2 separate regions of the Homo sapiens genome follow, and region 1 is linked to region 2. A link means that fine-mapping ties the variant in region 2 to the expression of a gene that starts in the linked region. Tissue or cell type: whole blood. Region 2 holds a variant in brackets; the other region holds the start of a gene. All regions are shown on one strand. Distances are from middle to middle.

The links. PIP is the estimated chance that this variant, and not a neighbour inherited with it, causes the effect.
Region 1: it holds the start of ADGRB3-DT, and the variant in region 2 is fine-mapped to the expression of ADGRB3-DT in whole blood (TOPMed, PIP above 0.99). The same link has a PIP of 0.9 or more in blood mononuclear cells.

What each region holds. Positions count from the first base shown.
Region 1 is chr6:68,632,232-68,637,602 of GRCh38, forward strand. ADGRB3-DT (ADGRB3 divergent transcript) reads right to left here and starts at 2,093. Exons shown (of 2, transcript NR_125872.1): 1 at 1,954-2,093; 2 at 432-825. ADGRB3 (adhesion G protein-coupled receptor B3) reads left to right here and starts at 3,051. Exons shown (of 32, transcript NM_001704.3): 1 at 3,051-3,769; 2 at 5,160-5,331. LOC127898563 reads left to right here and starts at 3,659. Exons shown (of 1, transcript NM_001414704.1): 1 at 3,659-3,736. The coding sequence starts at 3,659. The coding sequence ends at 3,736. RefSeq lists a silencer at 2,790-2,999.
Region 2 is chr6:68,738,484-68,743,483 of GRCh38, forward strand. The region is part of intron 3 of ADGRB3 (adhesion G protein-coupled receptor B3); the gene reads left to right. Among named protein-coding and RNA genes, the nearest start is that of ADGRB3, 110 kb to the left of the region's middle. The variant A/T (reference allele first, on the strand shown) is at 2,490.

The DNA.
Region 1 (5,371 bases), 110 kb before region 2:
AAAATAATAGCAGGAGAGATAAATTTGAAAGGCTTTAATATTAGATACCTGGGTCAATTTAAAATGCCATACCAGACTATATTTTGATGTGCTAACACTGACCTCTCAATAGTTCTTCTGTAAATCATCAAGGAAACTTATGTAATAATCAATTTATACAATTAATGTGGTAGTTTTGGAATTAAATGCATTACCTTATAAAAGAGAAATACAAAGCAATGTAGTGAAACTTCCCAAGCAAATATATGTGTATCAACTGAAATACACATATACATATCATATACATATATATACACACACGTGTATGTGTACTTACAAATAATGCGTGCATACATATACATATGTATGTATAAAATATGTGTATATGTGTTTATATATGTAAACATAAATATAGACATAGACTTGTGAAAGAGACCAATGAAAGCAGATAATTATAATTTGAAATGGTGATTTTAATATGTATTCAGTCATAAAAGTGGACCAACATCAATAGAAAGGAAAGGACAGAGAGCTGAGGGTGTGTAAACTGCTGCTCTCTTTTTGCTGTTGGGTCAACATGTCAGCAATGCTTTCATATGGAGCAGCTTGCAGACATGAAACAAGGTGGTTCCTCCTTTCTTTGCCTTTGGATTGTGCTGTTGTTAGTGTCCAGAGACCAGACTGTCCATATAGGGTTCTTTTTGTGATTCTTTATTATAATCCCCTGAGGAAGTCAGACGAGCCTGGGGTTACTGGAGACAGTGTCTTGCTTGGCGTAGTTATCATCCACAAATCATCTGCTATAAATATATCTCAGAAGGATCATCATCAGGCCAGCTCAGTAGCCTGCAATTTATGAAGGTTATGAGAAACAATGTGAAGGGTGAAGCGCTTTATTAAGGGTGGCTTTCTTTTCTGACCCTGCCCTGACTTCTACTTGAATATAAATGATCCTGGGAGTAAGTGAACCTTTCCATTTAGGATTTAGGCTTTTAAATTGTCCCTTTCAGCTGTTATTCTTATGCCACTGTGTCATGACTTTAAGAATTTCTAAGAAACATCAAAATCAGTGTTACAAGATAATATGAGAAATCACTAGATGCAAAATAGAGGTATAACTGAACCTCACATTACATTCTTTCCTTTTTATGTATAAACCATCCAAAGCATTTTTTCCTCCGTTTTTATTCCACATCTGTCATGCTTTTTTTTCCTCTGGATAAAGTAACAGAACTGACCAAATTGCCTTGCGAAAATCATAATTACGATCTCTAGGGAAGTTGAAATAAATAAAATGTTTTTCTCCTTTGTGTTGCTCAATGTTCTTTGTTTTTAAAAGAAAATGTGTTGCTTAAACGGTGTTTCAAAATTTGTTCTGGACATAAACCCTAATTATTTCCTTTTAACATTTCCTTAAATGAATAAAAAATATTGTAAAGAACCAAAATGACACAAAACCAAAATGCCACCCAGGCTGCTCTCTTGCCGGTGATTTGTTACTGGGAAAATAGTTAAAGCCTGCTGGGGAATTATTAACTGTTTCCCCTTACAGTGTTTATCCCAGGCATTCGTTTAAGACGGGAAAGCCTTGAAGAGGGTCACTCTATTAATATGCATTAAGAAGTAAAGGACCAATTTTAATATTTCAAACAACTCCAGTGGATAACAGACCATAAACTTCCTGTTTTCACTATCAATCTCTTTTAAAATGGTGTTCTTGGCTATCCATAATCGCCCCAGGGGAGAGAAACAAGCGGAGGAAAAAAATGCAAGAGTGAGGGGAACAAATGATGGAAAATTGCTTTATTCAACTTCACCTGCCGCTCGAGAAACTCACCCTTACGAAGATTCCAGCACTTTATATGAATTACCCATTATGGTTTCCTCCCACCACATCACTGCACTATTTTAGCACTTGTTTTGCAAACCACCAACTGCGTTTACAAGTAGAAACATAATCAGGAGGCGAATGACCTTTTGTAGCATGTATCTGAAGCTGGTTTATCAGACACTTCGTCAGCCAACTGTCCAGGAGGCAAAATGACTATCTATGATGATAGATAGACAGACAGATAGATAGTTAGATTAAAAGGTGGGGAAACATCCCTTTTCCCTTTTTCCTTTCTATATAATCTGGTTTTTTCTCTTCACCCCTTTTCTCGCTTCTTCCCACCCCGTCCCCAAACCTGTTACTAGGGAAACTTGAAAAAGAATCAGATACATTAAGACTACAAAACGAAACAAAAGTTTAGACCCCGAAACCATGATTCCATTGCCAAGCACAAAGCAATGCAAGAGCCCAACGTCGGTCGCCGCACCGCGATCCTGACAAAGCCTGTATGGAGCCAGAACAAATAAGATGTTAATTGCAGCCTCGCAGAGAAAAAAATACTATTGTTCCAGCCAGAGACACTCAGCAGCTCGGTAGCTGGGATGTGCCCCCTCCGCTGCGGACTGGATCAATTCTGAATCCCGGTACTGAAATGACAGCTCTCTGGCTGCGACAGGTCTGCGCTGAAAGAAAGAGAAAGACGATCAAGTCCAGCATTCACTTCCCACCCTTCAGAGTCGCCTTCCCATCCTCCGCACCCCCCTGCCTCGCCTCCCAGTGAGTTTCTCTTACAGTTGGTCGCCGCCAGCCCCAGCGGTGGGAACTGAGGATGCAAAAACCTCCCAGACGCAGAAAATACCGCTTTCGGGACGTGCTTGGGTTTGAGTAGCCGTGACGTGCAGGCGAACCGCGGCCCTGGCTGGAGCTCCGTGGAGCCCCCCTCCCGCCAGCCTCTCCCCCGCCCTCCCGCCGGGACTCCCTCCTCTCCCACCCCGCGGCTCCCTTCGCCTTCTCTCTCACACACCCGCCCGCGCCCCCGGCAGGCAGAACTCCAGGAAGTCGCAGCGGCCGCGCCGCGCGAGCCGAGCCTCTGGCGGGCGGCGGGGCGCACCGCAGCTGTGCATAAGAAGGGCGCGCGGCACCCGGGACGCGCGCGCACACGAGCACGCGGGAGGCCGCCGCGCGGACGCGCTCCCGGGACACGCGCACCCCCCGCGCGCGCGCCCAAGGGAGAGCGAGCACTGCGCGCCGGCGCGCACACCCGAGACAGAGCTTTACTATCTCGCTCCCTCTCGCGCCTCCCTCCTCGCTGGGCATTCAAACAGCTTTCCGACATCACCAGCCAAGGATTTTTTTCCCCGCTCTCCTTAGTCGCCGTCCGTCCATCAGTACCTGCAGGGGGGAGGAGGAGGAGGGAGGAAAGCGGAAAGAGGAAAAAGCATAAGCTTGAGCCTTCCGATCCGACCACGAATACTCCTGTAATAAACCCACCGCCCCAACAAATCTGCCATAGCAGCCGCCGCCGCCGCCGGTCACTTCTCGTCTCAGCGCTTTCTTTGCTTCTTGGTTTGTTGGGGGTAGCTTTTATGAAACAAATCTTTGCTATTAAGCCACTTACATTTTGGGGGGTTCCTTAGAGTCTCCCTTGGGGGGGCTTCTCCCTCCCTTTAGCCCCCCTCGGTTTGGAGGTTGGATTCAGTTGGATACGGCGCAAGGTTCTGGGCTCCTGCTGGCTTTTTTTTCCTCTCTCTCATCGACCCCCCTTTGGTTCCCACCCCCCACCTTTTGCTTTTCGTATGTATGCATTTTTAAAAATAAATCCTGATTTTGGAAGCTGAGCCGGGGAAAATGGGCAACGGTGATTGGGACCGAAGGGGAGTCTCTCCGTCACTGTTGCTGGGACGCGTGCCTGTGCTGGTGTCTTAGAGCAAGAGCCTCCCTGAGCTTTCGGAGTGGAAGGTAAGGAAGGGGGTCCAGGGGTCACCTTTTCTCTGCCGGGGGTCGCCACCGTGGAGCTTTGGGCTTAATGTTTGAGAAGGGAGGAAAATGAAAGGAAAGGCTGTTGCTGGCGGATGGGGAGGCTGTGAGCAGATCCGACTGTCTGCATTTACTTAAACGCCGCAGTTGAAAAGTTAGAGAAGTCTGGTTTTCAAGAGATGTGCTGGGTCAGAAGGAATAAGCGGAGAGACCTAGAAAATCTGGCAGTTTTGTGTGATTGGGGTAATTTTATGAGGGGAAAATTTTAGGTTAAAAGGAAGTTAAGAGAAGGCAGTGGGTCTTCTATTGGGGGGAAAAATCTGTGGAGTGATGGCGCCGTCTATGTTCGACTAAACTAAAGTGTCACCCAGAAAATCAGTTTTGAGAATAGCTAAACTCAATGCTGGTTTGCTTCTCAGCAAGAGATAAATAAATAAATAAATAAATAAATAAATAAATAAAACATCCTTGACACCTCCGTGGCCAGCCTTTGCCCCCGCCCCCACCCCTTCTTTAAGAGGGAAACACGGCTTTTTGAACGGGCCCTGCAGTCCAAAGGGGGGTGAGGGTAATGATTTATTTTTTATTATTTAGAACAAAATAAGACTGTGTACTCCAGACTGATTAAAAATAAAGAGCATTATATTGAGTGCGCTCTCTTGAGCAGGCATTAAAGTGAATTCAGAGCTATTTCCTCACTCTCTGATCATTGATGAGCACGGCATTGCAGACATGCACTGTCAAATAAATGAAAGCAAAAGTACCAATTTCATTAGGAAAAGACATACGACCTCTTTTTGAGTTCCTGATTATAAAATGAAGTCCCCTTTCATGGATGGAATTCCTAATTTAGACACTTATTGTCACATTGGCTCTCAACGCCTACACTCTATCCTGAAGAACACTGCGCAGACCTGCATTGCCTGCAAAGTGCAACACCAAAAAAAAAAAAAAAAAAAGGAAATTATTTCCAGAATTTCTTACAACTTTCTCTGTTTTTTTTTAACCTTTAAATGCTCATTGGCTTTATTTTCTCATGAAGAAAATGCATTATTCATTGAGCTATTTGCTTGAAACAGAGAACACTGTTTTGATGGTCCCAGCAGTTCTGATGTTATTTTAAACTGCTGCTATATAGAGATTTAGAGTTGGGGCTGTGTTTGCCTATATCAAGACATAGAATTTGAATTATAATCTGGAAAATGCAGATCTATCTTCAGGGACTTCGGTCACTGGATTTGGTGTGCATGCGTTGGTGTGTGTTATGCAATGGGAAGGAAGAGGGTTTTATCCTTTGATTCAGAGAAGACCCAGGCAAAGGCATGAAAACTCTTAACTATCTATATGTCTGTATGTCTGTCTCTGTTTACAGAACAGTGGAAGAGACTGCAGCCTAAAGACTTTTAAAATTAACTTGGCATCACTTTTATCAGCTCAAAGGCTAAACAAACAAACAAAAGCAGTGTCATTTATTCTAAGAAATAACTTCTTAAAGGTTAAAGCTGAAAAATATTCAAGTTATTTTTGGATAACAACTTACAGAGGTAAATATAACCAAGGACTACTTTATTATCCAAAGCCAGG
Region 2 (5,000 bases):
AACCTAGGGGTGAAAATGACAGTGGACTGAACAAAGGTGATAATTTTGGCTAGAGGGAGAAGGTCGTGAAGATAATGAGAAATTATTTGAGTCTGGCTATGTTTTGAGGGAAGAACCAACAAGATTTCCTAAAGTATAAAATATGAAAATAAGAGTTATCAACAAAACTGACGTTAAGGTTTTTGGCATGAGCAATTTTAAGAATGGAGTTATTTTCTGAGATGAGGAAAAAACAAATTTTGCAGGAAGATTACTAGTTTGATTTGGGTCAAAGTAAGTCTGTGATGTATATTTCACATTCAAATAAAAAGTTTCAGAGGGATGTCCAAATAAAGATTAAAATATGGGAGCTGTCAGTGGATATTTACAGTTACAAAATTGTATAATCTTACCAAGAAAGTGATTGTAAATAGAGAAGGGGTCTGAGGATTATGATCTGGGTCACTCCAACAGATTGGGGACATGAAGAGGATACAGGAAAGGAGACTAACATGAACTGGTCAGTAAGGTAAAACACTAAGAATGTGATACCTTATATGTCAAGTAAAAGGAACAGGTGCAAGCAAATGTTTCAAATTCTGCTATTGGTCAACTAAAATGAGGACCAATCATTGACTACTGACTTAGAAACGTAGCGATCATTGATGATGACCTTACCAACAATACTTTACCTCTGGTGCAATTTTAAAAGGTAGAAGGCTGAATGACCTGAATGGATTGGATTTAAGGGTAAATACGAAGAAAGGGATCGGAAGCAATGAGTAAGGAAAGATCTTTGTAGGAATTTTGTTGGAAAAAAGAACTGGCAAATTAATTGTATATTGGCAAGGTATGTGTGGTCAAGTGAGGGTTTTGTTTAGTTTTAGTTGGGAGAAAGTTTTTCATGTTTTTATATGCTTACTAGAATTTCTGCAGAAATTGAAAAATGATTACATAGGAAACAAAGAGAATAAGAGCTTGTCTTTAGGTAGGTAAGAGGGGATGGGGCCTGATGCACAATTGGAGGGATTTTCTTCAGATAGCAGAATGAAGGGAGATGAGAGAAGTCAGAGTGCACAGGTCTAGATGCAGGTAGGTGATAGACATGATGGTGAGAGCCTTTGGCAACTCTGTTCTATTTGTTTACATTTTTTGAGAATAAACAGCTGAGAGTGAGGATAGCAGGTGTTTAAGATATGGAAAGAGAGGAGAAGTGAAATAGTTGACCAGAAAAGAGAGTTAATCTGATTTATTTTCTAAAAAGAAAATTACTGTGGTACTAAATGAAATCTACAGAATGTTTACATATTCAAATTGTAGGTTAATTATGAACACACATCAAGCCATCACATAGTTAGCTGTAGAGTTTAAGCCATCAATAGTCATTTAGTTTCATTATCTCACTTGTTTGGTTTTAATTAACTTTCTATGTTTTTGTTTAACTTTGTGTACTATTAGTATCGAAAGGTTGTAGCTTGTTAATAGAGATGCTTATTTAGCATTTTCAAGTGAAAAACAACATTAATAACAGGTACAACATTATTATTAATAATAATAATGCCAATTATTCAGAAGTGGCAGGTCTATACAAAACTCTCTGACACTCTATTTTATCAGTTATTTTATACTTGATTAGGCTTATATAACATTTTCTACTTCTGCAATTTTCTGATAATTAATAAAGAATTTCCTTTACACAAATCTCAGGCTTTATTTTAGGGAATGGAAGTCTGTGCTACTAAAAATTGCATAGTGTTGTGTGTCTGGGCAGGCTTTTCAAAGACCTCTGTTATCACTTATATCCAAAGTGATAAGTCTGGGCGTGGTGGCATAGGCCATAACTCCAGAACTTTGGGAGGCTAAGGCAGCAAGATCGCTTGAGCCCAGGAGTTGGAGACCAGCCTGGGCAATATAGTGAGACCTGGTCTCTATAAAGAAAAGAAAATGTGATAAATAGGAAACAAATATCAATAAGAAGCAAGTAAATATTCTTATGGGTAATTAGAGCATCTTTAAGAAAAAAACATCAATTTGTATCAATAACCTTGGATGAGAATATGGTAGAAGGGTAGATTTTGGACTAGATACAACTGTTTATTAAAAAAATTCCAATTTGGCTACTAAGAATGAAGCATATATTTCATAGGAATCATGTCCTTGTATGGGCCACAATGTCAGTGTTAATTTTTACATGTTATTATAATATATGCATGCAATGGTTTTAAAATTGTCCCTTAACAATATTATGTGTTAGTAAAACATAATATTTATTTATCCATTATGTTGTGCAAAACTACCTTTGGTGTATCTATAGAAGGATGTCAGAAATACTTTATAGGATTTAAATTGGGGCAAAACCGTTTGTTTCATTTCTTCTATTCCCTTAACAAAGATAAAGTGAGTTTGTTTGAACTGGAACATAGTTAAGTGTTGATAGGCCATGTCAGTCTTCTGTATGAACTCCTCACCCCCACCAACTTCCTGTTTCTCTGAAGTGCATGCATACAGTG[A/T]TATATGTTTTGGTTTTCTAAGAAGGGAAAGGAAGCAGAAGAATACAGAATGAGCTTGTGAGTTTTGAAACTTTGGGACAAACATGGAAGTTGGTGAAAAACCATTTGTCAGTTTGCTTGACAGGAAAAAAAAATGAAACAAATGCATGCATGGACACAAAATGGTGTATCTAGTGTCTGCATAGGGCTTCCTATGTGCTAGGCACTATTACAAGTGTTTACATTTGTTAACACATTTAATTCTCATGAAACTACCACAACAAAAACTATTTTTATCCACATCTTACAGATTATGAAACTAAGGCACCCGGAGATAAAGTAACCTCCTAAAGGTCAAAGGTCACATAGCTATCAAATGTGAGAGCTGGTATTTGAATACAAGCAGTCTGGCTTTTTTTAAATTTTTTTTAATATTTTATTTTTGAGACAGGGCCTGGCTCTGTTGCCCAGGCTGGAGTGCAGTGCTGTGATCATGCCATCATGGCTCAACTGCAACCTCCACCTCGCCAGCTCAAGCCATCCTCCAACCTGAGCCTCCCGAGTAGCTGGGACTACAGACATGTGCCACTATGCCCAGATAAACTTTTGTAGTTTTTGCAGAGGCAGGGTTTCACTGTATTGCCCACGCTGGTCTTAAACTCCTGAGCTCAAGTGATCCTCCCACCTCACCCTCGCAAAGTTCTGAGACTACAGGCTTGAGCACTGTGCCTGCCCTGGCCTTCTTAACCACTGTTTGTTACCTTTTCTATCATAAGTATAGAAGAGTAATCTAATATCAAACTGGCTGATTAAGGTGACAGGTTGAATTATTGTCATCAGTTTTTTACAACCTAAACATTTTTGCTTCTGATGAAATGTTCTTTAAAAATTCTTTTCAGCATTCCTTTTTGCATTCTTCTTCTTATAACGTTTTAGCTAAATATGCAAATTCATTATCATTCACGAGTTCACATGTTGTTTAAGTAGGAAGGACCACATGGGAAAATTCATAAAAACTTTGAACACAAGTTTCTGTGTTAAAAATGCAAAGAACTGAATGTTCATATATCTTTTGTTTGAAGAATTTAGCTTAAAATATGAAGAAAACTACATGGAAACACTTTCCCTGAAATAAGTTAAAATTGTGATGTCATTCACTGACTATTATTGCTTTGCCACTGACTTCTGAAGAAATCCTAGGAGATAAATTGCTTGTGGTGTTTTCTCCCCAGTCTTATCACAAGTCATTGCTAATGAGTGGCTTCTTCATGATGTAAACTAGTTTCAAATTCAGCATATATTGTAATTCTTCCAGTTCTCATTAAGCACACTGTTTATATATTATGTCTCAACATAAATATATGAATGGAAATTTAATCCTTTCTATGACAGGTCATACACATTTTAAAGGAACTCTTATAGTTTTTTTTTTCTTTCTCTGGGTCTTGACTCTGACAGAGGGGAAAAAGAAAAATAAAAGCACTATCTATATTAATCATTCTCAGGAATAAGGCTGATTCTTTGAAAAGTGAGTTGTTATAGTTGAAAGGACAGGTTTAAAATTTGGATTAGAAATTGAAACCTGACTCCTCTGCTTCCCACATCTGCACCACCCAAAGAAGTCACTTACTCTCAATAAACAGAGAATAATAAATGCCTACCACATAGATTTTCTGTGAAGGTTAAGTTAGAATAAAGGAGAGGTGAATATTTCACCACAGTATTTGGCACTAAGCAGGGAATCACTAAATGTTAAATCATCCTAAAATATTAATTGAAGTCTTAAGAAATAATGTGATAATAAAGTAGCCACGTAAACTTCTAGATATTGTTTTTCCTCAAAAAGGAAAATAAACTAAATGGTGTGAACATTAAAACATCTATTAATATTTTATATAGTGGGATACATGTAATTTTAATATATTTTTTATAATTTTCTATTTTTTCCTAAATTTTATGTAATAAAGATGTATTTCTTGTATCTTTTTAAGCAACTATTTTTTCACCCCTGTTTGGAGTTCTATAGTACTTGTGTTTATTCTTACAGCTCAGTTTACCAGATATGACTAGGCATGCGTATACGTTTTCTGATATATCTAGGCTGGATTTCGTGAGCTCTTTCAGTCTATAGAATCACATTTCTTTAGCTCAGAAATTTGCTTCAATTAAATATTTAATTATAGATTCTTTCTCTGTTCCTTCTTTTATTGTTATTCCTATTACTTGGGTATGAGGTCACCTGAATATATCTGCCAAGTCTCATCTTTTCTCTCATGTTTTCCTTCTCTTCTGGATCATTCAGGCTACTGATTAAGATCTCAGCAATGACTGTGCTCACCTTCAATATATCTTCTGATTTCCTAAGTTGAGACATCTGAATCTTCTACTTGTTTTTTTTTTTGTGTGTGTGTGTATATCCAGAAATTCTTGTTAGTGGTAGATTTGAAAATGTTTAAGTGCTCCATTTTTTTTTTCTGTTCGGGAAGTTTCCTGACTTTCCAAATAGTTTGATAACCCATGTTTTCTTAGACA